Linked DNA regions of Homo sapiens. The gene in region 1 interacts genetically with each later gene. Each region holds a gene or a part of one and is shown in the gene's direction. Other genes may lie near its edges. The genes, in order: REV3L, LMTK3, SLC16A10, A1BG, CCR6, CSAD and ATAD1.

Region 1 (4,515 bases):
CTCATGGGTGCTGGCTAAATTCTATACCGTGTCGCTCTCCACTGTGACAGGGACGTTGCTTTCCACTGTGACAGGGTAGCACTGAGTTCCAATGCAAAGCAAAGTCCCATATTCACTCTGTTCTGTCTCTCCTAAGCACAGATTTCTCTCTCCGTGCCTCAAGACCACTGCCTGAGAGATGGGAGGTGCTGTCAGCAATTCACGACTGTCTTTTCTACCCTCTTCGCTGCCTCTTTCCTTGATACGTTGTTAAAACCAAGTACTGTGATTGCTCTCCTGATTTTTTATTCTAATGAAGGCGCTTTCTTGTGTGGGTAGTTCAGTTTGGTGTTCCTTCAGGGGACGGCAATTGTTGGAGGATTCCATATGGCCACATGGACTAATATTTTTTGATATCATGAAAATGTAATGAATGTGATATATAATGAAAGCTTTCTGAAAAATATTAATGTAAAATGAATTTTTTAATTGCTTAACCATTTCTTTGTATTTTTATAGCACTTAAAAACTATTTCTGCCCAGTTATGGCAATGAAATGGGAAACCACAACTACAGTTCACAAACAGGCATGAAAAACCAACACACGCCCCATTAGGGATTACACTAAGCTCTTTATTTTTTATGCATTCAAAAGAGAGTCCAATACACATGTGTCAAATAATGAGCACTGTCAATTTTTTTTTTCTAGGAGAGTTCAAAAACATTTATTCTAAATTTGTTGTTTTTGAACCATAGAGAATAAAGAATTTTAGTATTCAAATAAGATAGTTTATCTTTCCTTTTCACTTTATATATTTGAATATGCAGTGATTTTTATCAGAGTAATATAACTACACACATTAAGTAGGATTAAAGAGGTTATAAATATTTGGTGATTTATAGATTCAGTGTTTGTTTTGATAAATCCATGTGACTGGTTAAATATTTCTGTGGCTTTTTATTATGTTTTTATTTGGCATGCATCATTAACATTTTGAAATTTAAAATAGGTTTATATGGTAATGCTTCCAAATTTACACAAATTCTAAATGATAAATTTTGGATTTAGGCCATTGCTTCAATTTTTTTTATTCTTTGTCAAATTAAGGTCACACTAGACACAAAGTGGAAGAAGCTCTTATTAATGAAGAAGCAATTTTGAACCTTATGGAAAATAGTCAGACTTTTCAGCCTTTGACCCAAAGACTGAGTGAGTCACCTGTTTTCAGTAAGTAACAGTGCTACCATAAATATTCAGTATTGTAATTCAGAGAAAATGTGTGTTGTGAAGAGGCATTTTTTTTTTTATTGACTTGAAGAGGTAAATGTTGCATGTTCAGTAAACACTCTACTGAATATGAAAATGAAACCTTGCATTAAATCAAGTAGCTTTGCTTTTTTTCTATACAGCTTAAAAAAATTTGTGAAAGAAAATAGTTTTTTTAACTGTACTTTGATTCACGGAAAACCGTATTACTTAAGAAGGAAAATGCATTTATTTTGAATTAATATTTTGCAAAGTTCAGTACATTACTAAAACACCATAAGTGGTTCTTTCTTGGTGAGTATCACAAATTTCACCGGAGGAAACACGGGTGGCTAGGGCCATGGTCCCAGCCTCCTCATCTCACTGGCCAGGGCTGCACTCAACCAGTCCTTCAGTGGCCTCCCCTTGAGTGGCATCTCAGGCTTCCTGCAGCCACTGCCAGCCTTCCCTGGCAAGGCCTCCCAACTAGGGGCTGACAGTGCTGAGCTGTACCCACGGCCAAGACCCTGTGCAGTCCCAGGCAGCCCTGGCTGGAGCACACAACAATGTTATTTTAATAATGTCCCTAAATTACTCTAATGCAGGTGGTCCAAGGATCAACTTTGATAGGAGAGCTACCTCAACACCTGAGCCTTTGTACCAACTGTATTCTTTCAGCCTGTGCCAGTATCTATGATGTTGTTATTTTATTCTGAGTGATCTGAATTGTTGGATTATTAAGAAAACAGGCCGGGCGTGGTGGCTCACGCCTGTAATCCCAGCACTTTGGGAGGCCGAGGCAGGCAGATCACGAGGTCAGGAGATCGAGACCATCCTGGCTAACACGGTGAAACCCCATCTCTGCTAAAAATACAAAAAATTAACCAGGTGTGGTGACGGGCACCTGTAGTCCCAGCTACTCGGGAGGCTGAGGCAGGAGAATGGCATGAACCCAGGAGGCAGAGCTTGCAGTGAGCCTAGATCACGCCACTGCACTCCAACTCCAGCCTGGGTGAGAGAGCAAGACTCCGTGTCAAAAAAAAAAAAGAAAACTTATTTGTTGGTGATTATTGTACTTGTTTTATAGTGGACAGTAGTCCTGATGAGGCTCTGGTACATCTTCTTGCTGGTTTGGAAAGTGATGGATATCGGGGGGAAAGAAATAGGATGCCATCACCATGTCGCTCCTTTGGAAATAATAAATATCCACAAAATAGTGATGATGAAGAAAATGAACCACAGATTGAAAAAGAGGAAATGGAGCTTAGTTTGGTGATGTCCCAGAGATGGGACAGCAATATTGAAGAACATTGTGCCAAAAAGAGGTAATTTTTTAGTTATTGCAGTTGTTTTATTAACTTTTATCATTATTGTCCTTCAATCAGAAATTATTTATTACTATTGTTCATGATATAAAATACCTTATGAACTAAATTGATGTTTTAAAATTCCCCTTTAGTGATCTGTTTTTCATATGGCGTATACTCCATATTCCAAGCAAAATAAAGTTTTGCTACATTTTAAAAGATTAACCTAACTTTTAGAAGTTATCCATTTATATACACAGTATTAACATATGTGAGTGATAAATGGAGCAAAATTGAAGTGCCTTCTTATCTTAGAACTTAAGAAAAAGAATGCCCTGTGATAGTTGAACTGTTGGGTATCAGAACAACAATGTATAGAGTCAGCCTGAAGACAGGGTATGGTTTTGGGCTCTGATTAGACTAAGGGAACTAAGGTTAAAAACAAATAAATAAAAGACTAAGAAGCAAACACTGGTGTTGTGGTTTGTTTCTCAAAATAAATGAATAAGTTGGTGTTGTGGTTTTCTAAATCAGTCTCTGTGAACTTGATTGGTTTGAGTCTGCCCTTTAGTTATATGCTCTGTGTATAGAAAAATCTAGGCCTATGAGCCTGAAAGACTGAGTATGCCTCTCCTTTAAACTTCTATAGGCTAGATTAGAACTTTTTTAGTCTGTATTTGAAATTTCCAACCCAAAGCCATCACTGAAAGGTGAAACAGGTTAATCCATAAATTCAGTGTTTACATGTATATGATGAAAGTTTTTATTTTTCTACTTAATAAATCAGATATAGAAATCTCCAGATGTGATGTTAAATTCTTTCCTCTAACATTGTCACTGCTGTAATAATAGGCATAGTCAATCCTATGATTAAATTTATGTTTGTATGTTCAGTGGCTGAACCAATTTGGTGAAAACCATGCCCAATTTAACCTTGGGAAAACAAACCTAAACATTTTGTACACATATATTAGAGAGAGATTGAATAGTAGAAGCATGGTGTCTAGAAAAGGGTTTAGTTAATTCTGCTCTTTATATTGGATATTATATTCTGTGCTGAGTACCATATTTTAAGAATACTGAAAAAGGAAAGGGAAAGAAGAGGAAGAAAACTAGAAGGATCTGTGAGCATTGTCACTTTTGAAGAACTTTTGAATGGAGAATGTTTGATCTAATTAGAATTACAAGATGAATGAGAAATGCCTTTATGTATTTTAAAGATTATCATGTGGAAAATGACATCAACCTGCTCTGTATAGCTACAGAGAACAAAATAGGAATCATGTATGGAAGTTGAAAGAGTTTGTGTATTACAAGAAGACAACTATGAATAATTAAAGCCATTAACAGTGGAAAGATTGCCCTGTGAGACAGCAAGCCCCTTATACAGATTATGTAAAAACAGAGATTGTGTCAGGTTCGTTAAAAATGAGGTTTTCGCATTGGGTAGAAAGTTGGACTGGACCTCTGATACCTCTTTCAGCTCTTAAGGGAGTGATTTTTATGATAAATTGTGATTTGGAAAGGCTTAATGGAAAAACAGTTCCAGTATAATAAGTATAATAAAATAATAATAATTTCAAATTGTTGAGATTAGTGAAAGAAAAAATTGGGTATGGATAGGAAAAAAGTTTGCCCATTCAATTAAAAGGGAAAACATCAAGTTAATACCAATATGAGATGAAACTTAAAGACTGGACTTCACTGTCCATCTGAATTTCTCAGTAACCCTTTGTAGTTATTGTCAGGTTGACTGAACACCTTTACTACTTCCTATTACCCTCTCTCTTCTTCAGCATTTTCTCTTCAGCCCTGACCTCAATGCCCCTTCACTCATCTTTTTATTCTTGTTTCTTCCAATTCAGAATGCAGGAATTGTGGTGTATTTTAGCTCACATGAAAGGGATTATGAAGTCTAATTATAATAACTCTTTGTAAGTTACTATAGTAAGACATGTTAATAAAGCAAAGTAAATATGCTTT
Region 2 (4,515 bases), on another chromosome or scaffold:
GTAGGGAGTTTGTGAACAGCTGTATCAGGAAACAGCCCAGGCTGCATGAAAATGTTGGGAGATGAGCAGCTAAGATGCGTCAGAGGATCTGGGTTGGATTAGGATTGGGGGGTGAAAAGAGGCAGAGAATGGCCCGCTTTTTCCCAAGTGAACTACTCATCCTTCAAGACCCCAAATTTCCCCTTTCCAGGAAGCCTTCCCTAATTTTTAAAGGTTGTCAACCTGACCTTCATCTGGGTACTCATAACTCCAGAAAAACCCCCTCTAGGCTGGGTGCGGTGGCTCACACCTGTAATCCCAGCACTTTGGGAGGCCGAGGTGGGAGGATCGCCTGAGGTCAGGAGTTCGAGACCAGCCTGGCCAACATGGTGAAACCCTGTCTCTACTAAAAATACAAAAATTAGCTGAGCGTGGGGGCAGGCACCTGTAATCCCAGCTACTCGGGAGGCTGAGGCAGGAGAATCGCTTGAACTCAGGAGGCGGAGGTTGCAATGCGCCGAGATCGTACCACTGCACTCCAGCCTGGGCGACGAGAGCAAGACTTCATTTCAAAAAAAAAAACAAAAAAAACACTCCCTCTATGAAGCATCGCCCATAACCCCATCACCCTGAGATGTCTGGTCAACAAAAGTGTGACTTTTGAGCAGATGTGAAGGAAAGGAGGGAGTGAGGCAGGTGGACATCGGTGGGAGAGTGTTCTAGAGAGGGCACTGAGATGTGCACTGGCTCACCATGTTTAGAGAATAGCAAAAGGTAGTAAAACTTGAGTAGAGAGAACGAGGACCTGAGAGGGACCGTCTGCATTCATCTTTCTCCCTGCCCCACCTCCACCCTCCTCTTGCCCCTGCCATCAGCTCAGAAAGGGCAGTTCACTTATGCAGTAATGGAGGGCTAAGTGACCCTTGTTCATTTGCCAGTGAGGAAACAGAGGCTCAGAGAGGTGGATCTGGCCGGGTGTGGTGGCTCATGCCTGTAATCCCAGCACTTTGGGAGGCCAAAGAGGGCAGATCATAAGGTCAGGAGTTCAAGACCAGCCTGGCCAGCATGGTGAAACCCCGTCTCTACTAAAAATACAAAAAATTAGCCGGGCATGGTGGCACGTGCGCCTGTAGTCCCAGCTATTCGGTGGGAGGAATGGTGGGGTGGCCCATGTGGCTAGATGGAGGTCAGGCCAGAGGAGGTGGGGACAGAGGCCAGAGAAATCAGGTAGGCCAGGGCATGAGGGCCTGGTGGGCTGTGGGAAGTTGCGGCTTAAAGCCGTTGGCACTGGGGAGCTCTGGGGAGGTTGAGCACTGGAGAGGACCTTTCCCACCCTGCCTGGAGAAGCCCTGGTGCAGCCCTTCCGTTCACAAAGTGGGTGCTGAGGCCCAGATTGTGCGGGGGTCTTATCTGAGGCCACACAGCTAGGTGGGAGGGCCTGCCTCAGTTTCACCGGGACAGGGGCTCACCAGGTCTCTCCCCTCGCAGCCAGGCTCTCCCGGCTCTCGCTGGCGCTGCCGCCGCTCACGCTCACGCCATTCCCGGGGCCGGGCCCGCGGCGGCCCCCGTGGGAGGGCGCGGACGCCGGGGCGGCTGGCGGGGAGGCCGGCGGGGCGGGAGCGCCGGGGCCGGCGGAGGAGGACGGGGAGGACGAGGACGAGGACGAGGAGGAGGACGAGGAGGCGGCGGCGCCGGGCGCGGCGGCGGGGCCGCGGGGCCCCGGGAGGGCGCGAGCAGCCCCGGTGCCCGTCGTGGTGAGCAGCGCCGACGCGGACGCGGCCCGCCCGCTGCGGGGGCTGCTCAAGTCTCCGCGCGGGGCCGACGAGCCAGAGGACAGCGAGCTGGAGAGGAAGCGCAAGATGGTCTCCTTCCACGGGGACGTGACCGTCTACCTCTTCGACCAGGTGCGGAACCCGAGAGGGCGCGGTTTCGGGGTCGCGGCCTGGAGGGAGCAGGAGCCTAGAGCCGGGAAGGGCCTGGCGGGAGGCCGAGCTTAGAGTTGGGCGGGGCCTGGAGGGAGGCGGAGCTGGAGTGGGGCGGGGCCTGAAGGGAGGCCGAGCTAGGGTGGGGCGGGGCCTGGAGGGAGGCCGAGTTAGAGTGGGGCGTGGCCTGAAGGGAGGCCGAGCTGGAGTGATGCGGGGCCTGGAGGGAGGGCAAGCTGAATTGGGGTGGGACCTAAGGGGAGCCCCAATCTAGAGTGGGGCGGGGCCTGGGGCGGGGCCGAGCTAGAGTGGGGCGGGGCCCAGGGAGAGGGCGGGCTGGGGGGCGGAGCCCAGGGCGGGGCCTGGAGGGAGGTCGAGCCTAGAGGTGCAGGGCCTGGGGCGGGGCCTAGACGAAGGCTGAGCTTAGGGTGGGGCGGGGTCTACAGCAGGGTTTGAAGGCAGGCTGAGCCTAGAGCGGGGGCGGGGCCTGGAAGGAGACCGCGCCTAGGATCGGGACAGAGTCTGGATCCGGGCCTGAGGGAGGCCAAGTCTGTGGCGCGGCAAGAGGAGGCCTGGAGAAAATCCAAGGCTGGAATGGGGGCGGAGCCTAGGGCGGGGCGGATGGAGCAGGGCGCGGGAAGGGCCTGAGGGGTGAAGGCGGGGTCTGGGGAGAGACTGGTCAGGGAAATGGGGCGGGACTAGGAAGATGGGAGGAGGCTTTGAGTGTGAGGGCAGGGCCTGGCAATGGGGCAGGGCCAGGAGTATGGGCCGAGCCTAGAGCTGGGGCGGGACCTAGGGTGAGGGCAGGGCTTGTGACGGGGGCGTGGTCTAGAGGGCGAGGAGAGGTCTGGAGAGAGAGTGTGGGTCTGGAAGGAAAGAGGGGGTACTGGGTAGTCAAGTATGGGATCCTGGAGAGGCTAGGGAGGAAGTGTTGAGAAGAGGCCTGGATGGTGAAGGGGCCTAGTGAGAGTTTGGGCATGGTTTGTTGACTAGAGTTCTAGTGTCTGTAGGCTGGTTCGGGTTGGAGCAGATCTTACCCACTAGGGAAGGGCCATGGCTAGGCTGCAGGTGGGCTTCAGAGATGGAGCAGGCAGTCTTAACGTATTCTGGGGTGAGGTCAGGGATGAGCGAACCTAACGACTGGGACGGGTCTTTAGAGAGATGGGTTGAGGAATGTGTTAAGAGTTAGGCCTGTCCCGGGTGGCTCACGCCTGTAATCCCAGCACTTTGGGAGGCCGAGGCGGGAGGATCACTTGAGGTCAAGAGTTCGAGACCAGCCTAGCCAAAATGGCGAGACCTCGTCTCTTAAAAAGAAAAAAATTATCTTGGTGTGGTGGTGCGCATCTGTAGTCCCAGCTACTTAGGAGGCTCAGGTGGGAGGATCGCTTGAGCCCAGGAGGTTGAGGCTGCATTGAGCCATGATCACAACACTGCTCTCCAGCCTGGGCGACAGTGAGACTCTGTCTAAAACAAAAAGAAAAACACAGGATATGGTGTTGAAGAGAAAAAGGGAGGGCGAGTGGTGCTGAGGAACTGGGACCTTGTCTAGATGAACCTGGGGCGGGCATACTGGGCTGAGATTATGAAAGGAATGGAAACAAGGCCAAGAACTGGGGCCTGGGCCACTGAAATGTTTTCAGAGGGGTGGGACTTGGAGGGCGGGAGCAGGTCTACTTCTGAGGGAGGGCTCAGGGGCAGGGTCACAGCATCCAGCACGGCATGCGCTCAGGATGGGGCAGGGGTTGGGAGGGCCACTGGAGCAGGTCAAGATCTCAGAGGTGGGTGGGACTGACGTGGACGGGGTGGGGCTTATGGAGATCGCTTTGGGTTAGGGGATCCGGTGGAGGCCTCACGTTAATGAGCCAGGAGAGAATCCCTGCGTTGGGCTACTTAGCTGTGCGCGGGGCTCCGCTGTCAGGAAAGGAGCCTCTGGCCAGGTTGAGGTTAAGGCTGGCCCAAGGCTTCGAAGCCAGATTAGGGGCTCCAGCCACCTCTCCAGAGCGTGCGAGTCAGTGATTACAAATTGGGATTCCTAGAGCCCCAGAAATATTAGCCGGTTTTGTTGCTTTTGGGGGATGCGGTAAATGGGACGTGAAGGTTTGTCCCCTCTGGCTTCCCCCTAATCTGCCTTCACAGGAGACGCCAACCAACGAGCTGAGCGTCCAGGCCCCCCCCGAGGGGGACACGGACCCGTCAACGCCTCCAGCGCCCCCGACACCTCCCCACCCCGCCACCCCCGGAGATGGGTTTCCCAGCAACGACAGCGGCTTTGGTGAGGACGGGCCCTATGGGGCGGGAGGGGGCGGGAGCCATGGGGCGGACGGGGCGGGGTCTATGGGGTGGGAGGGGCTTGGTCGGGAGGGGCGGGACCAGAGGGCGGGAGTGCCGCAGGTGTCTGCAGCCTGACCGCGGTCTTTCCTTCTGCCGCAGGAGGCAGTTTCGAGTGGGCGGAGGATTTCCCCCTCCTCCCCCCTCCAGGCCCCCCGCTGTGCTTCTCCCGCTTCTCCGTCTCGCCTGCGCTGGAGACCCCGGGGCCACCCGCCCGGGCCCCCGACGCCCGGCCCGCAGGTACCATATCCTCGGCCCTGCCCCCTCCTCTGCCCATCTCTGTCCC
Region 3 (4,515 bases), 160 kb from region 1:
GGAAGTATCAGGAAGTCTTTTTACTTGCTCAAGGTCATAGAGAGCTTAGAACCTGGTAGTGTCCCTCTGAGCCCCAGTTCTTTCCAACCTGCCAGGCTGTAGGCCCAACAATTACTCACCACTAAGAAATTATGCTTGTGCTGTCATGGAAGTTGCATTGGAGAAAAGGATATTTAACTGGCAAACAAAAGTCAGGAGAATGGGGAGATTTTGTTCTTTTGAAATGCTAGTGTGAAGTGCTAGGCTTATTTTTCAAATGCCCAACTCGTATTCTTTTCTTTTCTTTTTTTTTTGAGAGGGAGTCTCACACTGTCGCCCAGGCTGGAGTGCAGTGGGGCGATCTCGGCTCACTGCAAGCTCCGCCTGCTGGGTTGACGCCATTCTCCTGCCTCAGCCTCCGAGTAACTGGGACTACAGGCGCCCACCACCACGCCCGGCTAACTTTTTTTTTTTTTTTTTTGTATTTTTAGTAGAGACGGGGTTTCACCGTGTTAGCCAGGATGATCTTGATCTCCTGACCTCGTGATCCGCCCTCCTCAGCCTCCCAAACTGCTGGGATTACAGGCGTGAGCCACCGCGCCCAGCCGGCCAACTCGTATTCCTAAACGAATCATAATTTTACCATAAGACCATAGTTTAGTGATTGAAGAAAAAATGTACCGAACTGTATGATATGATGGTGTCAAAAAGAACTAACCCAATATGAAACAGTTTTCAGGAGCATGTTTCCTATTTTGGTGTCAGTGGACCACTTGTGTTAAAGTTGTGAAAACCAACACTCCTGAATTCCACCCAGAACTCACACTCTGCACCTTCAGAGGCCCTCAGATTGTGAGTGGCTGCCCCGAGGTGTACTACCAACCTCCAGCTTCCGTAGGTCCGTAGGTGTGCTAGTAGGGCCTAGGAAAAACAGAACAGATGAGGACAGTGATGCATACAGCTGCTTTATCTGGTCTCTCCTTCCTCCCTAGCCTGACTGCTATTGGAGGGCACCCTCCAGGCACAGTTCTGTTCACAGCCTGCTGCTGCCCCCGTGGGCCATGGTTCCAGGACGGCTCCATCTTCTGTGCTTTGGGCACATTAACCTCTCCCAGCGTCACTATCTTCATCAGCAAAATGGAGATAACATTAGTACCACCTCATAAAGTTGTTATGAGGATCACCAGTGAGATAATCAATCTAAAGTGCTTACAACAATGCTTGGCACTTGGTAAACACTAAATAAATGATAGTTGCTATTATATGCATACTTTTAAAAAACTTGATGCTTTTAAAAATTTTTTCTGCTGACTAGTGAATTGTTCAGTTTTTGTTGTTGTTGTTGTTGTTGTTGTTGTTTGAGACGGAGTCTCGCTCTGTCGCCCAGGCTGGAGTGCAGTGGCATGATCTCGGCTCACTGCAAGCTCCACCCCCCGGATTCACGCCATTCTCCTGCCTTAGCCTCCCGAGTAGCTGGGATTACAGGCGCCGGCCACCACGCCCGGCTAATTTTTTTGTATTTTTAGTAAAGACGGGGTTTCACCTTGTTAGCCAGGATGGTCTCGATCTCCCGACCTCATGATCTGCCCACCTCGGCCTCCCAAAGTGCTGGGGTTACAGGCATGAGCCACCGTGCCCGGCCATGAATGGTTCAGTTTTAACAGGTTCTGTGCCTTAAAAAAGTTATTAAATTGACTGTTTCCTCCTTTTTTGTACCCATCATACTTTGAATATATAACTACGGCAGCATATAAACACTTCACTTGCACTTATTTATTTAAATGTCCATCTTTCCATAACCCAAGGGTAGGAACGAAATCTTATTCATTGTTGAAACCTCTAGCACATAGCACAGTGCCTACCAAATAGTAGGCAAAATCAGGTGTTCAATTCTATTAACTACTCTAACACTGAACTGAAAGTGTTCAATGGCTCAAAATAATATAATAAGCCTTAACTCTGGGGTGCTTAAATTTATCTATAATCTCTGCCAGTGAAGTATACATAGTTTTAAAGGTTAAAAAAAAATCAAGTGTTTAATGAATTTGAGCTGATTGAGCACTGACCAGATACAGGATCCTTAAACTTCATAATATCTAGTCCAAAGATGAATTTTTTTTTTGGTACAGATTCTGACTTCAAGGGATTTGCAGGCTGGGAGGGAAATTAAATATATAAAAAGTCATTTTCGGCCAGGCGCTGTGGCTCATGCCTGTAATCCCAGCACTTTGGGAGGCCGGGCAGGTGGATCACTTGAGGTCAGGAGTTCAAGACCAGCCTGCCCAACATGGGGAAGCCCCATCTCTACTAAAAATACAAAAATTAGCTGGACTTTGTGGTGCTTGCCTGTAGTCCCAGCTACTCAGGAGGCTTAGGCAGAAGAATTGCTTGAACCTGGGAAGCGGAGGTTGTAATGAGCTGAGATCACACCACTGCACTCCAGCCTGGGCAACAGAGACAGACTCCAGCTCAAAAACAATACGTTTTTTTAATCTTGTCCCTTAATGGAAATATTGAGAAAATGTCTAGGGGAACTCGAAGGAGATGATTATAGGAGTTGATTATGTATGTAAAATCAAAGTGAATGAGGCAGTGGCAGGGGGGAAAGGGGGAACCAGTAATGACTTAGAAGTCCTAAGCATGTTGCATGGTAATTGTGACATTTGCTTCCTGCGAGCGGAGCTGACCTTGTGGTGTCCGTCCTAGGTACTCTCCTTTTTCTTCATTGGTCTGATGTCCATGATGATTCCTCTGTGTAGCATCTTTGGGGCCCTCATTGCTGTGTGCCTCATCATGGGTCTCTTCGATGGATGCTTCATTTCCATTATGGCTCCCATAGCCTTTGAGTTAGTTGGTGCCCAGGATGTCTCCCAAGCAATTGGATTTCTGCTCGGATTCATGTCTATACCCATGACTGTTGGCCCACCCATTGCAGGTAAATATAATGATTCTCCAGTAGTTATATTAATTCATAGTATTTTCTACTTCAGGTCTTAATTAAGTCTCATTTATATGTAAAACATATTACAGGTTATTGATTACTGGTCTTTTGCTTTTATGTGTGCCTTACTGGTAACATTTTTAATAAGACTAGCTATTAAACAGTATGTTGAATTTGCTGAAGAGTCCCTCTTATCCTTACTGGCAGCTAAAACACTATATAAAACACTTTGGGAGGCTGAGGCGGGAAGATCACCTGAGCTCAGGAGCTTGAGACCAGCCTGGACAACATAGTGAGACACTATCTCTACAAAAAATAAAAAATAAAAAAATTAGCCAGGCGTGGTGGCATGCATCTGCAGTCCCAGATGCACAGGAGGCTGAGGTGGGGGGATTGCTTGAGCCCAGAGGTCAAGGCTGCAGTGAGCTGTGATCATACCACTGTACCCCAGCCTAGGCGAAACCCTATCTTTAAAAAAAAAAAAAGTTGAAGATTCTGAAAGATTTCTAAATATGTCGGCTTTTGGTAAGAGATCATACATCCCCCTGAGGAGTAGTTGATGAAAAATAACATGATAGAAAAAACCCAAATGCCTGTAAATACCTAACTGGGTAAGCAAAATGTGGAATATCTACAGTGCAATATTATTCAGCCATAAAAAGGAGTAAGGTACAGAACTGATGCTACCAGGTGAATGGACCTCAAGAACATTATGCTAAGTGAAAGAAGCCAAACATAAAAGGTGACGTGGCTGGGCATGGTGGCTCACACCTGTAATCCCAGCACTTTGAGAGGCCAAGGCAGGAGAATCATTTGAGCTCAGGAGTTCCAGACTAGCTTGGGTAACATAGCAAGACCTTGTCTCTACTAAAAATAAAAAAAATTAGCCTGGCATGGTGACACATACTAATATTAGTGTAGTCCCACCTACTCCAGAGGCGGAGGCGAGAGGATCTATTGCGCCTGGGAGATCAAGGCTGCAGAGCCGTGATAGCACCACTGCACTCCAGCCTGGGTGACAGAGTGAGACCCTGTCTCAAAATAAAAGGTCATATATCGTATGATTTATTTCATGTGAAATATCCAAAATAGGTAAATTCATACAGATAGAAAACTGGTGACTGCCAGGGGCTGGAGAGAAAGGGATTGGGAAGTAACTACTTAATTGGAATGAAGTGTCCTTTTGGCATGATGAAAATATTTTGGAACTAAATAGAAGCAGTGGGTGCAAAACATTGTGTATGTGCTAAATGCCACTGAATTGTTCACTTTCAAATGGTTAATTCTATTTCATGTGAATTCCACCTCTAGAAATTCTCTGAATGATATTATAAAGATGTCCTATGTTCAGTATTACTTGGGTGCCTGTGTCAATTAGTATTAGAAGATTCAGTATAAATATGATAAAATTTAAATGTGTGTACTGTCATCTGTGTTTGGCACATGAGGTGCTCAGTGAAGGTTTAGCTCAATTCATTCTCATACCCTGAACTGTATTCCTAGTCATGAATCAAGCAAGCAGAGTTACTACTGAGCAGACCAAATCCAGTTTAAGTTCAAAAGGTCATGGTCTCCTTATAGGAGAACCCTCCATT
Region 4 (3,920 bases), on another chromosome or scaffold:
AACGCGGTGGCCCTGGGGGATGGAGGTCACTACACCTGCCGCTACCGGCTGCATGACAACCAAAACGGCTGGTCCGGGGACAGCGCGCCGGTCGAGCTGATTCTGAGCGATGGTGAGCCGGGGCCAGCAGGGACAGGGACGCGGCTGGGTCCCTGGGGAGCAGGAGCAGTACCAGGTGTAGAGTCTGGGGAAGTGCAGTGCTCTGGGCCAGGGTCCAATACCAACTTTATCCGCCCACCCGCCGATTCAGGGTCCTAAACTGCAAATATGATGATGAGCGTGACAACCTTCAGGCCCCACAGGGAATAACTGGGTGAACAGGTCTGGCCCAGGCCACAGGGGGCACCACCTGGCAGGTCCCATCCCAGCTGCCAGGTCTAGGTGAGCACTGAGGGCCTCTGCTGAGGCAGCTCCTCCGCTCGCTTGCCTTGGACCTGATGGTATTTAGCAAACTCTGAGCACCGGACAGCGAACCCCATGCCCAGCGGACCACAGGGGCCCCTCCGTGGGGCGGGCATTGGGGCGGTGCTCAGAAGACGCTCGTGGAGCAAATCCACTACTGAGCGGCATCGTGCACCAGGCATCAAGCCATGCACAAAACATGTCCCCGTCCCCGCTTCCCGTCTGTGTCTGTAGACAAACAAATTACTAAGAAACAGTGAAAGGGTGCGTGTGAGATATCCAAGGACTGGGATGCAAAGGTGGGGCGGGCCCGGAGGAGGCGAGGGAGGAAGCTGGCCAGGTCATTGCGGGCAGAAGACTCAGCCAAGGCAAAGAGCGCGAGGCCAGACCACGCGTTAGGGCCGAGCCAGCCGCTGGGCGCCCGGGTCAGCCCGTGTGCTGCTCCGCAGAGACGCTGCCCGCGCCGGAGTTCTCCCCGGAGCCGGAGTCCGGCAGGGCCTTGCGGCTGCGGTGCCTGGCGCCCCTGGAGGGCGCGCGCTTCGCCCTGGTGCGCGAGGACAGGGGCGGGCGCCGCGTGCACCGTTTCCAGAGCCCCGCTGGGACCGAGGCGCTCTTCGAGCTGCACAACATTTCCGTGGCTGACTCCGCCAACTACAGCTGCGTCTACGTGGACCTGAAGCCGCCTTTCGGGGGCTCCGCGCCCAGCGAGCGCTTGGAGCTGCACGTGGACGGTGAGCTGGCGGGGCACCAGCGAGGGCGGGCGCGGGTTCAGTGCCCCTCGGGGCCTCCTGTCTTTCCCCTCTTTCCTTGGGCGTCCGACGGCGGCGCTCTGGGCCTTGGTTCAGCCCCCATCGCCTACCCCGGCGGGGAGCAGGCGATCGGTGGTCGAGGGTCTGGGGACGCCTGGAATTTCGGCTTATTTCCCACGGACGCAAGCCCGTAGGTCACGTGTAGCGTGGTGGTCGGCAGCAGGGAGGCTGGCCCCAGGTTTTCTTGTTCAGATCCCTGCAGCTCTGTGGCTGCCTTGTTTTATTACTGGCCATGTCAGTCGTCATACTGGACCCCCCGCCCCGGCCCCGGTCCCGCAGGCGCACGGCTGATGTGTCCTTCTCCCCATCCCCGCCGTCCCCAGCTCTGTTTGTCCCTCTGATTTCCTCATCGACGTCTCCAGGACTCAGAGCCCAGCAGAGCGTGAGGGCACAGGTCTGACCTCCAGATCTTGAGGTCGTACCCTTTGCTGGGAGCACCGTTTTCTCTTTTCTTTCACTTTCTTTCTTTTCTTTCCTGCCTTCCTTCCTCTTTCTTTCTTTCTCTTTCCTTCTTTCTTTCTTCCTTCCTTCTTTCTCTCTTTTCTTTCTTCTTTTTTCTTCTTTCTCTCTCTCTCATCTCTGCCCCCCAACCCCATCTCTCTCCTTCATTCCTCCCTTTTCTTCTCCTTTTTGTTTTTTTTTTGGATAACTTACTTTTATTCTTGCAGGCCGGAGTGCAGTGGTGCAGTCTCAGCTCACTGCAACTTTCGCCTTCTGGGTTCAGGCAGTTCTCCTGCCTCAGCCTCCTGAGTAGCTGGTATTAGAGGCGCATGCCACCATGCCCACCTAATTTTCGTATTTTTAGTAGAGACCGGGTTTTGCTATGTTGGCTGGGCTGGTCTTGACCTCCTGACCTTGTGATCTGCCCGCCTCTGCCTCCCAAAGTGCTGGGATTACACTTGTGAGTCACCATGCCCAGCCTATTCTTGCAGTGTTATAAGCCACCATCCACAATTGATGAAAAATGTTTAATCTTGGCCAGGCAAGGTGGCTCACGCCTGTAATCACAGCACTTTGGGAGGCCAAGGCGGGTGGATCACAAAATCAGGAGTTCAAGAGCAGCCTGGCCAACATGGAGAAACCCTGTCTCTACTAAAAATACAAAATTAGCCAGCTGTGGTGGCACATGCCTGTAATCCCAGCCACTTGGGAGGCTGAGGCAGGAGAATTGCTTTAACCCGGGAGGTGGAGTTTGCAGTGAGTCCAGGTCATGCCACTGCATTCCAGCCTGGGCAACAAGAGCAAAACTCCATCTCAAAAAAAAAAAAAATGTTTAATCTTTAAATTGTACATCTATATCCTATGACTCCAAATTTTATTTATCACTCTCCTTAAAGTCTGAAGAAAATGATTAATTTACTAAGCTCCAAAGACAACACAGTCCCACTGACATAACATTTAGTATGATGTCCTACTCTCCTGTTAGAATTAAGAACAGCCAGTATCAAACTGGCCTGAAATCTGATTGGGTTCCTGGGCTCAGAATAACTGTAGTAAATTTGTAAATCCACACTAAGACACAAAATTAAACTAGGATGTGTATATCTATCTTACAAGAAAACGTTTCACAGTAAAAATTAACATTATGATTTTACCAAATTTCAACATTATAGTTTGTTAATCCAATCAAGCTTTCAAAATTCCTGATTAGCTTACAATTAATTGCAAATAACTTCATGTAGTTTGGCTAGCATTTCAAAATGGATAGGGAATATAACTTTTAAAATGCGAAAGTATATTATACATATTGCACTTTTCTGCTAGGCTGGGCTAGTATCTTCCATGGCAAGATACTCAAACTATTGAATAAAATACACATTTAAATCAAGCACTTACATGTACTTCATTAATTTCCCTGAAATTATCAACAGCATTACCAAAATCTTCCAGGATTTTGTAACATTTGATTCCTTACAGTTTTGTTTTGTTTGTTTGTTTTTGAGACGGAGTGTCACTCTGTCACCCGGGCTGGAGTGCAGTGGCGCAATCTTGGCTCACTGAAACCTCTGCCTCCCAGGTTCAAGCAATTTTCCTGCCTCCACCTCCCGAGTAGCTGGGATTACAGGCGCACGCTGCCACGCCCGGCTAATTTTTTGTATTTTAGTAGAGACGGGGTTTCACCGTGTTACCCAGGCTGGTCTGGAACTCCTGAGCTCAGGCAATCCGCCTGCCTCGGCCTCTCAAAGTGCTGAGATTACAGGTGTGAGCCACTGCGCCCGGCACCTTAAATACACTTTTAAAGTTAAACTTATGGAGGGAAAACCCTCATCTATTGACATAGATTGTATGTCCTTTTTTGGTCCCTCCATGAAGGAGCACCGTTTTCTCCATCATTTCTTCTTCCCTTCACCCGTCAGAGTGACCGAGGCTGGGGACCCCAGAAGCCCCAGAGCAGGCCCGAATCTGGGACTTCCACGGTCCTGGGGGAGGGGTGCGGGGACACTCACGTGTGGCGCGGATGTCCGGGGTGTGAAGGCAGCGGGCGCAGCTCGGCGGCGCCGGAGGAGCCCTCTGCGCCCAGGAACAAGACAGGGAAGATGAAGCCGGGGCTGAGGCGCAGGCGCGGGCGCGGCCTGGGGTGTGGCCTGGGGTGTGGCCTGGGGCGTGGCCTGGGGCGTGGCCTGGCCCGACCACCCGCCCGCTCCGCCCAGGACCCCCTCCCAGGCCTCAGCTCCGGGCGACGTGGAGTGGGGCGGTCCTGGCGGGCCG
Region 5 (4,288 bases), about 56 Mb from region 1:
TCCCACCAACAAAGTGTGAGAGCCCCAGATGCACCATGTCCTCTCCCAGCTTCCAGCCCCCTGTTTAATCTTAGTCCTTCCAGTGGGATCTCTGTGTGTGTGTCTGTGTGTGTGTGTGTATGTGTGTGTGTGTTTTGGACGGAGTCTCTCTCTGTCACCCAGGCTGGACTGCAGTGGCGTAATCTCAGCTCATTGCAACCTCCGCCTCCCGGGTTCAACTGATTCTCCTGCCTCAGCCCCCCAAGTAGCTGGGATTACAGGAGCACGCCATCACGCCTGGCTAATTTTTGTATTTTTAGTAAAGATGGGGTTTCACCATGTTGGCCAGGATGGTCTCGAACTCCTGGACTTAAGTGGTCCGTCTGCCTCGGCCTCCCAAATTGCTGGGATTACAGGCCTGAGCCACTGTTCCCAGCCTTCATTGTGGTTTTAATTTGCATTTTCCTCATGATTAATGGCATTGAGCGTCTTTTTTGTGTGTGTATTTGCCATCCATGTATTTTCCTTGGTGAATTGCCTGTTCACATTTCCCCCTGTTTCTTATTGTTTATGTTTTTGATAGGGAGTTGTAAAAATTATTTGTATATTCTGGATATAACCTATTATCAGATATAAGCTTTAACATACTTTTTTCTATTCAATATATATATGTTTCACTTTCTTGAGTGTCTTTCAAAGAGCAGAAGTTTTACATTTTGTACAATCAAGTACAATTTATCAATTTTTTTACAGTTCATTCTTTTTGCAATTTATATAAGAAGCTTCTTTTTCCAGGGTCACAAAGATTTTCTCCCATTTTTCCTTCTAGATGTTTTATGCTTTAGCTCTCACATTTAGATTTATAACTCATTTGAGTTACCTTTTGCAAATGGTGTGAGGTAAGCAGTAAGGATCGACTTTTTGTTCATGTCATTCCAGGACCATTTACTGAAGACTGTTCTTTTCCCATTGAGTTACCTTGGCACCTAAGTTAAAAATCAGTCCGCCATCTATATGTGGATCTATGTCTGGCCTCTGTTCTGTTCCAGTGATTTATGTAACTGTCCTTTCAGAAATCCAACACCGTCATGGTTAGTGTAGTTCCTTGTCAGCTCTGAGACTGGGTAGTGTGAGTCCTCCATTTTTTTTTTATCTTTTTCAAAATTGTTTTGGCTATTTTAATTTCCTTGAATTTCTATAAAAATTTTGGAATTGACTTGTCAATTTCTCAAAAAAAAAACCCTACCATAATTTTGATTTAGTTTATGTTGTATCTACAGATCGATTTGGGGAGAAATTATATCTTGAAATTGAATCTTTGATAAATTTGAACATGAAATGTCATTGAAAATTGAACATGATAAATTTCTCCATTAATTTAGGTCTTATTTAATTTTTGCCAACAATGTTTTGTAGTTTTTAGCATATAAATCTCACATAAATTTTGTTAGAGCTATCCATAAGTATTTTACATTTTATGATACAATTGTATATATAATTATTGATACTATTATATATGATATATGTGTGTATATATATATATATATATATATATATATATATATATAGTTTTAACATCCAAATGGTAATTCCAATTGGTGTATTTTATTTTACATATTGTATATTTCACCTCCCATGCCCTCCACCCCTGCCATGCTCTGCAGCTTAGAAAGAGTGTGTATCATTTCTCACTGTATTTGTTCTCCTCCTGCCAGGATCCATAATCCTGTGATGCCTAGTGCCGAGGTCTGAAAATGGTTGTTACATTTTGTAGGTTTTTCTAGTTGTTTAATGCAGCAGGGTGCCTTTGGTCTCTGTTGATCCACCGTGGCTGGAAGCTGAAGTTTAGCAGTGGTGTTCTGATTGCTGTGCTTCTTCTGATTGATACGATTACCTCGTCACATGCTTTTGCAACACAGGGGTCTATACCACGCTTCTTCTGCATACTCTAAAGCACTCAACTGTATACCTGCTGGGATTACAAAAGTGCAGAGGTGACTCCATACCTTCCTCCAGCTTTTTAGGCCCAAAGCAGTGACTGAGGGGCAGTGAAGAACCGATCTCTAAGTTGTGACTCCAGGCATCAGGGAAGGAATGGGGTGGAGTAAATAATGAAATGAGAATCAAAATTATGTAAGAAATAGGTTTGGAAAATAATTCAGGGTGAACTTTGTGTTACATGGGCTTCCTCTCCAAAAGGTCAGTATCCACGTGGACTCGTAAGTGAGGACTGATATGACACAGTGTGGGGGCGAGGAGGGCAGTTCCACTTTCTCTGCCTGTGCACCTGGGGCTGCACTTCCCTAGCTGCTCCCGCTTGGCATGGCCAGGCCCACGTGGTGCGAGAGCAGGGAAAAGAGGAGGAAGATGGGCGATTGGCTGGGAAGCACATCCAACGTCAATATCAGAGCGTTTCAGGCCATGGATTTTACTGGGGGACGTCCAGGGCGTGTTAATAAACAGGATGATGGACAATGCTGGAAAGAAGGAGTGAGCCTGAGAATAGCGAAGGGTTTTTCTTTCTTTTTAAGTTTGCTTCAGATGGTGGATTTCAAAGCCCTTCGTCCTCAGGCGCTCCACAACCGCTCCAGCTCTTCCCGGTCTCCTGCTAAACTTCTTCAGCCTGGACCCATGCACCGCCACTGCTGGCGTTCCCAGCACACGGTATACTCCATTGTTTCCTGACAATCCAGTTGATTCGGCCAGGCTGGTTGCTCAGCTGTTTCACAAACATACAGGGCTCATGACTCAGGACTGCTCTTCAGCCTGAGACGAGCTGGTCACCTGAAGGAGATGGCGGTTCTCTGTCAATCATTGGCCCATAGCCTCACCATTCTCCAAGAACCCTGATCAGAGCCTCCTCCTCCAGGAAGTCTTTCCTAACTGTGCCAGCCTCCACCTTTCCTCTGGCATTTGGATTTCTGATGATTAGGATGCCTCTGCCACAGCAGATTCATGCTTGTGACCTGGAATGTCTACTGGAAAGGTCTGCGGCTGTGGAGAAGCAGGTGCATTCCTCTCCAGCGCCTTCCCAGGCTGGAGCAGCTTGTTCAGTGTGTCTTGAGAACAGCACTCATAGTCAAACTTTAAATTCTACTGGAGATTCTCACATGCCCACAGGGGTGATCATCACTGACATATATTGTGAACGATTTAAAGCCCGGGACTATGAATTATACATTTTCTATGCGCTTTCACACTTCTATAGATTTTGTTCAGTAAAATCTTGTTGAATGTTTTTAAATTTTGCGTAAAGATTTTTGTGCAGATCAAAACTTGTGGATTTCTGAGAGCACCTTATTTAACCAATAGATCAAGGGTTGGCAAATTATAGCCTCTAGCCAACGGACCCCGGCGAGGCCTGTTCAGTTATGTAATTGTAGATGCTTTCAAGCTCCAAAGGCAGATTTGAGGAGCTGTGACAGAGACCATATGGCCTGAAAAGCCCTAAAATATTTACTATCTGGCCCTTTACAGAAAGAGGTTGCTGATGCCTATTCTCAATGAATATTTGTATGTAAAATAGTGTGCTGTGCACTCTGTTCACACGAGATGGAATGCTGGTAACTTAACTGTCTGGCTCTCCAGGAATACCTGTGTTAACTGTAGTGCATTTTGCCTTCTTTCCTTCTTAGAGTCACCTCTACTTTCCTGCTACCGCTGCCTGTGAGCTGAAGGGGCTGAACCATACACTCCTTTTTCTACAACCAGCTTGCATTTTTTCTGCCCACAATGAGCGGGGTAAGATTTTTATTTTTGGCAAGGGGTATAATTTGGGTTCACTGTGGCTACTTGAACACTACACTGCAGCTAACTCTATCTTTGTTTCCTTTCCAGGAATCAATGAATTTCAGCGATGTTTTCGACTCCAGTGAAGATTATTTTGTGTCAGTCAATACTTCATATTACTCAGTTGATTCTGAGATGTTACTGTGCTCCTTGCAGGAGGTCAGGCAGTTCTCCAGGCTATTTGTACCGATTGCCTACTCCTTGATCTGTGTCTTTGGCCTCCTGGGGAATATTCTGGTGGTGATCACCTTTGCTTTTTATAAGAAGGCCAGGTCTATGACAGACGTCTATCTCTTGAACATGGCCATTGCAGACATCCTCTTTGTTCTTACTCTCCCATTCTGGGCAGTGAGTCATGCCACCGGTGCGTGGGTTTTCAGCAATGCCACGTGCAAGTTGCTAAAAGGCATCTATGCCATCAACTTTAACTGCGGGATGCTGCTCCTGACTTGCATTAGCATGGACCGGTACATCGCCATTGTACAGGCGACTAAGTCATTCCGGCTCCGATCCAGAACAC
Region 6 (4,515 bases), on another chromosome or scaffold:
CCCAGGCTGGAGTGCAATGGTGCAGTCAGGGCACACTGCAGCCTCAACCTCCTGGGCTCAAGGAATCCTCCCATCTTAGCCTCCCAAGTAGTTGGGACTACAGATGTGGGCAACTGTGCCTGGATAATTTTGTAGTTTTTTTTTTGTTTTTTTGTTTTTTGTAGAGACAGGGTTTTGCCATGTTGCCCAGGCTGGTCTCGAATTCCTAGGCTCAAGCTATCCATTGGCCTCGGCCTCCTAGAGTGCTAGGATTACAGGATTGAGCCACCATGCCTGGCCGGATATGTAAATTTTAATAGATTCTGTGAAAATGAATTGTAAAAGTTTGTAACAACTCCCATGTTTACTCAGAACCATGTGTGAATGTTCCCTATTCCTACAACTTTGGCAATGTTTAGTGTATGCTATGAATTTTTTATACAGTTACTAGTTTAATGGGTGAAAAATAGTATTTGTTTTAATTTTCATGTCATTAATAGTGAAGTTAATATTCTCTTATTGCCTTTTTTTTTTTTAAGAGATGGGTCTCTGGACAGGCACGGTGGCTCACGCCTGTAATCCCAGCACTCTGGGAGACCGAGGTGGGCGGATCACCTGAGGCCAGGAGTTTGAGACCAGCTGGGCCAACATGGAGAAACCCCATCTCTACTAAAAATACAAAAAAATTAGCTGGGCTTGGTGGCACGTGCCTGTAATCCCAGTTACCAGGTGGCTGAGGCAGGAGAATCACTTGAACCCGGGAGGCGGGGGTTGCAGTGAGCCCATATTGTGCCATTGCACTCCAGCCTGGGCAACAAGAGCGAAACTCTGTCTCAAAAAATAAATAAATAAATAAATAAATAAATAGATGGGTCTCCACGCTTTGTTGCCTTAGGCTGGTTTCCAACTCGTGAGCTCAAGTGATCCTCCCACTTCAGCCTTCCAAATAGGTGGGACTATTTTATTGCTCTTTGACCATTTTAATTGTTTTTGTAAACTGTCTGTTCATATCCTTTGCCCATTAAAAAAAGGTAGATCATTTGTATATTTCTTATTGATGGTAGAAATCCTGTCTGTGTTATGGATAATAACTATTCTTTGTCGTCTGCATTTAAAATATTTTCTCTTTTTCACTTATCTTTCAGCTTTTGAGACAAAAGTCATGCTTTATGGGAAAATATTTGAAACATTTCTGTCTTTGCTAGGAACAAGCCAGGGATGTTTACTATTAAAACTAAGATTTTAGGAGAGCTCCTGGCCACCCTAAAGCCTCCTTGATTTCATATATATTCATCTTACAAAGAGAAACGATTGACAATGTATCAAAACTATGGAGTTCAGCAACATGACCAGATGTCAGATTAACAAACAAAAATTATATAAATAAAATATAAGAATATAACCAACACTAAAATACCATAGAATAAATAATCTGATTCACAATAAAAACATTATATTTTGGCCAGGCGAGGTGGCTCACACCTGTAATCCCAGTGCTTTGGGAGGCTGAGGTGGGAGGATTGCTTGAAGCCAAGAGTTTAAGACCAGCCTGGGCAACATAGTGAGACCCTGTTTACAAAAAATTAAAAAATTAACCCGGCATGCTGGCATGTGCCTGTAGTCCTAGCTACTCAGGAGGCTGAGGTGGGAGAATTGTTTGAGCCCAAGAGTTCGAAGCTGCAGTAAGACATGATTGTGCTACTGCACTTCAGCCTGGGTGATACAGCAAAACTTATTCTCTAAAATAATAAATAAATATTTTTTTTTTTTTTGAGATGGAGTCTCGCTCTGTCACCCAGGCTGGAGTGCAGTGGCATGATCTCGGCTCACTGCAAGCTCCGCCTCCCGGGTTCTCGCCGTTCTCCTGCCTCAGCCTCCTGAGTAGCTGGGACTGCAGGTGCCCACCACCATGCCGGGCTAATTTTTTGTATTTTTAGTAGAGATGGGGTTTCACCATATTAGCCAGGATGGTCTCGATCTCCTGACCTCGTGATCCACCCGCCCTGGCCTCCCAAAGTGCTGGGATTACAGGCGTGAGCCACTGCTCCCAGCCCCTTCTGGTATTCTTGTTTTTTTTTTTGAGATGGAATTTTGCTCTTGCTGCCCAGGCTGGAATGCAATGGTGCGATCTTGGCTCACTGCAACCTCTGCCTCCCGGGTTCAAGCGATTCTTCTGCCTCAGCCTCCCAAGTAGCTGGGATTACAGGCATGCACCACCACACCCGGCTAATTTTTGTATTTTTAGTAGAGACGGGGTTTCACCATGTTGGTCAGGCTGGTCTCGAACTCCTGACCTCAGGTGACCTCAGGTGATCCACCTGCCTCGGCCTCCCAAGTGCTGGGATTACAGGCTTGAGCCACTGTGCCCGCCCCTCACCCCCCCTTCTTGTATTCTTATGGTTGTATATTTTCAGTTTCTGTCTTTATCTTAGCTGCAGTTAATTTTTGTCAATGATGAGAAATAGTGAGAAATGCCACACGGACCTGTGATGCAGTGGAAGAGGTAGCCTAAAGTCAGAAAGTCAGTGATCTAGGCTTGTTCCCATGTCACCTTTGTAATTTTGGACAATTAGTTCACCTTCTTTCAGCTAAGAATCCTCATCTTGAAAACAAGAATGAATAAATACCTATTTAGGCTAATTTCTAATACTATTGTGAAGGTCAAATAAGATAATAAATGAGAAGGAAAAACACCCTTTGCAAATCTATTATCATTACTACAGATTCTTGGTTGATGCAAATCAAATGTAAGTAGAATGCAGCATTTTTTCCAGTACCTGCAAATCATTGATTGATTTAACAAATGTTTATGTAATGCCTCTGTGCAAGTCCCTGGGGGAGGGGAGAGGACAATCAAGAAGATGGAAACTAACATTTGAGGGGTCCCTGTTTTCTATTAGTTTACTTAATGAAGGAAAAGACTTAGTTCTCTCCACCCAGGAGAGTACAGTCTAGAAGCAGAGAAAAGATTGTATACATAGGAGAGTTTGTGCCTTTATTAATGTGGGTGTGGAGCCACTAGGGTTTGTTGATTGGGAGATAGCACAGAGTACTTTAGCTTTCTAACCATAAACCTGGCTGAGAGCGCTTCAGGAGACAATTGCCTAGATCCCTTTGTCCCCAGGCAGGCCTCCTCCTGTGTGACCTTCCCTAACTCCCTCTTCCCTCAGGCCCACTCCATCACTTATTCAAATAGCATTGCAATGACTCCTGCTGAGTCTTTTCCTGCACCAGCTCTCTATTGCCTTAAGGAGAGCCTTAGTGTTTTGTCCTTGAAGCCTGTCCTGGGCCAGTTGAACTTTCCTGCCTTTCCATGGTGACCTCTCAACTCCCTCTTGTGGCAATTTCCCTTTATTTTACATGCAGGTCTCTCTTGCCAGCCTGTTAGCTGGAGCCCACAGGGCAGATGCAGCACCTAGGGTAATGCCAGCCAGGCGCTCAGAAGTAGACAACACTCAGTCAATGTTTGCTGAACAAACTGAACCCATTCCCTTCCCTGAGAGCCAGCGGGGGTTGAGGGGTTGCGTAATAGAGATGAGCAGTGTGTGGCTCCCTTTGCCTTCCATTAGACCTTTGATAACAGTGGATTGAGGAGTTGGGAAACCACATGATGTGCAAGGGACATTCCTTGAGCCTGATGATTTGTATATTTTAGAATTCTTGTACCCCCTTAATTCCTCCATATATATATATATTTTTGAAATGGAGTCCCACTCTGTCGCCCAGGCTGGAGTGCAGTGGTACCATCTTGGCTCAGTGCAACCTCCGCCTCACAGGTTCAGGTGGATCCTGCCTCAGCCTCCTGAGTAGCTGGGATTACAGGCACCCGCCACCACGCCCGGCTAATTGTGTATTTTTTAGTAGAAATGAGGTTTCGCCATGTTGGCCAGGCTGGTCTCAAACCCCTGACCTCAGGTGATCCACCCACCTCAGCATCCCAAAGTGCTGGGATTACAGGTGTGAGCCACCACACGCGGACAATTTTTATATTGTTTAAAAAGAACCGTTATTTTAATTCCATAAGCAATGTGAAATGATTGTATAAAGTTATAAAAATATAGATGTGTATAAATAATAAACTTAAAAATCATCCATAACAACACCCAGAAATAGCCACAAATGAATATTTTGAAGTCTTTTTCCTTCTTTTTCAGTATTTTCTTTTTTTCTTTTTTTTTTTTTTGAGATGGAGTCTCGCTCTGTCGCCTAGGCTGGGGTGCAGTGGCGCGATCTCTGCTCACTGCAAGCTCTGCCTCCCGGGTTCACGCCATTCTCCTGCCTCAGCCTCCAGAGTAGCTAGCTGGGACTACAGGGGCCCGCCACCACACCCGGCTAATTTTTTGTATTTTTAGTAGAGACGGGGTTTCACCGTGTTAGCCAGGATGGTCTCGATCTCCTGACCTCGTGATCCGCCCGCCTCGGCCTCCCAAAGTGCTGGGATTACAGGCGTGACCCACTGCGCCTGGCCTGTATGACCCGTTTTACATGAAATGGCCAGACTAGACAAATCTACAGAAACAAAGTAGATTAGTAGTT
Region 7 (4,515 bases), on another chromosome or scaffold:
AATAAATAAATAAATAAATATGCTGTTGACCAATTGAAGACTTCTGTAGGCTTAACTCATTAAATATATTTGAATGGGTGGGTGATATACAATGTTTTAAGGATAATTCACCTTATAGTAGTATGCAGAAGGAATAGGAGTCAAGAGGTACTAGAAGCAAGATCTGTTGGTGATAGACTGCAACAGTCCTGGCAAAGACTTAGAATAAGAGGGTGACAAAAGGAATGACTTGAGTGAAATAGACTAACACAAATGAATGCAGGAAGGACTTTGTGATGATGTGGGAAAAGAAAAAGGACATCTTAAAATCTTAAAAACGAACCAAAGATTTGTCTGGATACCTCAAAGACTTATAATATCTTTTATAGAGGTTTGGAAACTGGTAGGTAGGGCAAATTTATGAGAAGATGACATTTGATCTGGCCATGTTGGGTTTGTGTTGGTGGTAGGAATTCAGGAGGAAATGTTCATATAGCAATTGAAGTTGCAGGTCTGAATCTCAGAAAAAAGGTCAATCCAGAGGTATATTTCCTTATCGATGGTTATAAGTAGTTGAAGTCGTTAGAACAGTGAGTAGGCCATATGGTTATTCCTGTATGTGTAGATATCATTTGTAGAACTTTTCCCAAATTATTCCCCATCTCCCCTCACCACCATCAAGATTTATACATATATTTGTTGAGAAATTCTAATGTAATTGTCACTGTAATAAATGGTAATGACTATACTAAGAGTGATGAAGTCTCCAAAAGAGGTGGTGTAATGCAGCATAATTGGTAAGCTGAAGCGTAAGCCTTGATACATTTCCTTTATTTAGGGTATAGAAAGATGATGTGCAGCCAGTGAAGAATGAATAGGTCAGTATGGGTAACAAGACTGACTCCTGCTGAAAACAGCTAAAGAAGCTTGATAATTTTTTAAAAATCTTGTTTTATTTATTTATTTATTTATTTATTTTTGAGTTGGAGTCTTGCTGTGTTGCACAGGCTGGAGTGCAGTGGTACAATCTCAGCTCGCTGTACCCTGCTTCTTCCGGGTTCAAGTGATTCTCCTGCCTCAGCCTCCGGAGTAGCTGGGATTACAGAAGTGTGCAACCACACGTGGCTAATTTTTGTAGTTTTAGTAGAGACGGGGTTTCACCATGTTGACCAGGCTGGTCTTGAACTCCTGACCTCAAGTGATCTGCCCGCTTTGGCCTCCCAAAGTGCTGAGATTACAGGTGTGGGCCACTGTGTCTGGCCTAAAAATCTTAAAGGCATTCATGAGCTATCAACAAAGTAAAGAATGCAGGTTAAAAACTTAAGGCAAAAATTTCAGAAAGCTAAGGTGAGCTTGATTGCCAGCCTTTACCTTGAGAGAATTTGCTGAATTCTGTTTTTATGATTTCAGAGGGGCTCAGTATACAAAACATAGGGCCAATCTAAAGTAGGTAGTTTCATAGATGATACTCCTATAAATCTAGAACCCCAAAAGGCTATCTGTAGTATTTCAACTAAAGATAAAGACACAGTGTTTTAAAGATGAATAGTTTAAAGAGAGAAATTTAAGCCATATGCTGGGTGAAGTAACACATCTAAAATATAGATTCAGAAAGGTTGAAAGTAAAAAGATGGAAATGTATATACCACACAAATATAAGAAGAAAACTGGCTGGGCAAAAAGAAATTGTAAGGCAAAGATATTGGAGAAAATGTTTGCTACATAAATGATGAAAGATTCAATTCACCAATAAATATAACATTTCTATTTGTGTGTAACTATTGATGTAGCCTGAAAATACATAAAGCAAAAATATGATATAACTACAGGGAAAAATGGACATCTCCATCAACATGGTGAGAGACTTTTAACACCTAATAATTGTTCAGATTTTTTAAAAATTAAGGATATAGAAGATTTAAATAAAAAATGGACATGTATAGTATATTGTGCCAAAATAAATGCAAAATACATATCTGAAGCACATATGATTTGTGAAAATAAACCGAATACTAGATAATAAAGCAAATCTCAAGTTTCATAATATTGGTAGCGTATTTATTAACATTTCCTGGCTATAGTGCAGTACAGTAGAGATCATTAGAAAAATAAGTTTGGAAAGTATGAAATATTTTAAAATGACTCCTGGGTAAAAGAAAGCACATAATAATGAAATGAATGGAAATAATAACATAAGTTAATGAAATAGAAAGTGAATATACAGTAGAGAAAAATCAATAAAACCCAAAATTGTTTTTTTGAAAAGACATAAAATCAAGACTTTTCAAACCGACAAGAAAAAAGTTACCAATAAAATACTACCTGGAACAAAAAAGGCCTAATATTGCTGTAGATATTAAAAACAAGGGCCGGGCACGGTGGCTTACACCTGTAATCCTAGCACTTTGAGAGTCTGAGGCAGGTAGATCACCTGAGGTCAGGAGTTTGAGACCAGCCTGGCCAACATTGTGAAACCCTGTCTCTACTAAAAATACAAAATTAGCCGGGCGTGGTGGCATGTTCCTGTAGTCGCAGATACTCAGGAGGAGAATCGCTTGAATCCAGGAGGCGGGGGTTACAATGAGCCGAGATTGCGCCATTGCACTCCAGCCTGGGCAACAAGAGAGAAACTCCATCTCAAAATAAATAAATAAATAAATAAATAAATAAAATTAATAAATAAAAAAAATTAGGACTGTTCATAACTATAGTGGGCCCTTGAACAACAAACAACGTGTTTAAACTGCATAGGTCCACTCATAAGCAGATTTTTTTTTTTTTAATGAAAGTTCAATTGAGTGTGCCCGTCTCTCCTGCCACTCCTTCCACCTTCACCTCTTTTACCTCTGCCAACCTGAGACAGAAAGACCAACCTCTCTTCCTCACGCTACTCAACATGAAGATGATGAGGATGAAGTTAATATATTTCCCTTTATGATTTTTTAAATAACATGCTTTCTCTAGGTTACTTTATTGCAAGAATACAGTATACAAACTATGTTATTAACTGTTTCTGTTAGTGATAAGGTCAACAGTAGGCTATTTTAGTAGTTCAGTTTGAGGGGAGTCAAAAGTTCTCTATGGATTTTTGAGTGTGTTGGGGTCAGTATCCCAATCCCTGTATTGTGTAAGGGTCAACTGTTACGTCGATAAATTTGAGAACTTAGGTATGGGTAAACCCTTAGAAAAATATGCATTTCTAAAACTGACTTAAGAAGAAATAGAATACATGGTTAGTTCCATAACTATGAAATAAGTTAATAGTGAAAATATCTTTTTATAAAGAAAACTTCAGGCCCATAGAACTTTATAGCAAATTCTGCCAGTATTTAAGGAACAAATTAATAATAACCAATTTATGCAAATTCTTCTAGAATATAGGAAACGAGGGAACACTTCCAAACCTTTTTGTGAGGCTAGCATAACTACAGTTCTAAAACCTATAGTAGTCTGTAATTTCTCTCTCTCCCTTCTAAATTGGTATAAGAATCTTAAATGTCAGCAAGTTAAATTCAGCAATATAGAAAAAATATAATGCGACCAGTTGGATTTATCCCAGGAGTTTAAGCCTGGCTTCATTTAAGGGATGGGAAATCAATATAATATGCAACATTAACAGATTAAAGAATAAAACCTGTATGATTCTCCCAATAAATGCAGAAAAGGCCTTAAGCATTCATTCATGGTTTTAGAAAAGCTTTTAATAAAATGGGAACAGAAGATAGTGTTCTTTTTGTTTTGTTTTGTTTTTTGTGTTTTCTTTTAGACGGAGCCTTGCTCTGTTGCCCAGGCTGGAGTGCAGTGGCATGATTTTGGCTCACTGCAACCTCTGCCTCCCGGCTTCAGGCGATCTTTAACTTGATAAAATGCATTTACTAAAACAAATGTATTTTATAGTGAAGAATTGGAAACATTCTCTTTATGATTAGGAGCAAGCCTGTTGTCTTTCATTACTTTTCATTACTTTTTTTTTTTTTTTGGCTTTTCTTTGTTTACTTTGTTTACTTCTTTGTTTACTTTTACTTCTGTTTAACATTTTACTGAGTTACTAGCCACTGCCTAAGTCAAAAAGGTGGGGATTGGAAAAGAAGAAACTAAATAGTCATTATTAATGGATAATATGATAATCTACATAGAAAGCCAAAGAATGTTTACAAGCTATCAGGATTCATGAGAGTTTGATGGGTTTGCTGGATTTAAAATCAGTATACGAAAATCAGCTGTTTCTGTATACCCATCATGTTTTAAAATGTCATTTAAAAAAAGCATTATATAGTAGCATCAAAAATATAAAACAACGGACAAACATAAGACATACAACACATTCATAGAGAAAATTATAAAACTATTGAAAGTTTAGTTAAATTCAACATCAGTACAAAAATACTGGCAGATTTTCGTTTTGTTGTATTTTTTCCTGAAATTCATGTGGAAGAACAAAAGTCTATAAATAGGGAAGGCAATCCTAAAACACAAAGTTTTATTTAACTACTTTGGGTCTTGAGTTTTCTTATCTGTAAAAGAAATAATAATAGC

What was found.
Region 2: changes in REV3L (region 1) and LMTK3 impair growth when combined (synthetic growth defect), as found in Homo sapiens cells (one large-scale study listed by BioGRID).
Region 3: changes in REV3L (region 1) and SLC16A10 impair growth when combined (synthetic growth defect), as found in Homo sapiens cells (one large-scale study listed by BioGRID).
Region 4: changes in REV3L (region 1) and A1BG impair growth when combined (synthetic growth defect), as found in Homo sapiens cells (one large-scale study listed by BioGRID).
Region 5: changes in REV3L (region 1) and CCR6 impair growth when combined (synthetic growth defect), as found in Homo sapiens cells (one large-scale study listed by BioGRID).
Region 6: changes in REV3L (region 1) and CSAD impair growth when combined (synthetic growth defect), as found in Homo sapiens cells (one large-scale study listed by BioGRID).
Region 7: changes in REV3L (region 1) and ATAD1 impair growth when combined (synthetic growth defect), as found in Homo sapiens cells (one large-scale study listed by BioGRID).

Annotation. Positions count from the first base shown.
Region 1 is NC_000006.12:111,378,017-111,382,531, reverse strand, and holds part of REV3L (DNA polymerase zeta catalytic subunit), read left to right. Parts: intron 1-1,087; coding exon 1,088-1,207; intron 1,208-2,312; coding exon 2,313-2,550; intron 2,551-4,515. UniProt on the Homo sapiens protein: Catalytic subunit of the DNA polymerase zeta complex, an error-prone polymerase specialized in translesion DNA synthesis (TLS). Lacks an intrinsic 3'-5' exonuclease activity and thus has no proofreading function.
Region 2 is NC_000019.10:48,491,062-48,495,576, reverse strand, and holds part of LMTK3 (serine/threonine-protein kinase LMTK3 precursor), read left to right. Parts: intron 1-1,467; coding exon 1,468-1,883; intron 1,884-4,037; coding exon 4,038-4,173; intron 4,174-4,331; coding exon 4,332-4,469; intron 4,470-4,515.
Region 3 is NC_000006.12:111,216,129-111,220,643, forward strand, and holds part of SLC16A10 (monocarboxylate transporter 10), read left to right. Parts: intron 1-2,685; coding exon 2,686-2,914; intron 2,915-4,515. UniProt on the Homo sapiens protein: Sodium- and proton-independent thyroid hormones and aromatic acids transporter.
Region 4 is NC_000019.10:58,347,583-58,351,502, reverse strand, and holds part of A1BG (alpha-1B-glycoprotein precursor), read left to right. Parts: coding exon 1-112; intron 113-851; coding exon 852-1,133; intron 1,134-3,862; coding exon 3,863-3,920.
Region 5 is NC_000006.12:167,132,424-167,136,711, forward strand, and holds part of CCR6 (C-C chemokine receptor type 6), read left to right. Parts: intron 1-3,614; 5' UTR 3,615-3,711; coding exon 3,712-3,720; intron 3,721-3,816; coding exon 3,817-4,288. UniProt on the Homo sapiens protein: Receptor for the C-C type chemokine CCL20. Binds to CCL20 and subsequently transduces a signal by increasing the intracellular calcium ion levels.
Region 6 is NC_000012.12:53,173,955-53,178,469, reverse strand, and holds part of CSAD (cysteine sulfinic acid decarboxylase), read left to right. Parts: intron 1-4,515. UniProt on the Homo sapiens protein: Catalyzes the decarboxylation of L-aspartate, 3-sulfino-L-alanine (cysteine sulfinic acid), and L-cysteate to beta-alanine, hypotaurine and taurine, respectively. The preferred substrate is 3-sulfino-L-alanine.
Region 7 is NC_000010.11:87,807,777-87,812,291, reverse strand, and holds part of ATAD1 (outer mitochondrial transmembrane helix translocase), read left to right. Parts: intron 1-4,515. UniProt on the Homo sapiens protein: Outer mitochondrial translocase required to remove mislocalized tail-anchored transmembrane proteins on mitochondria.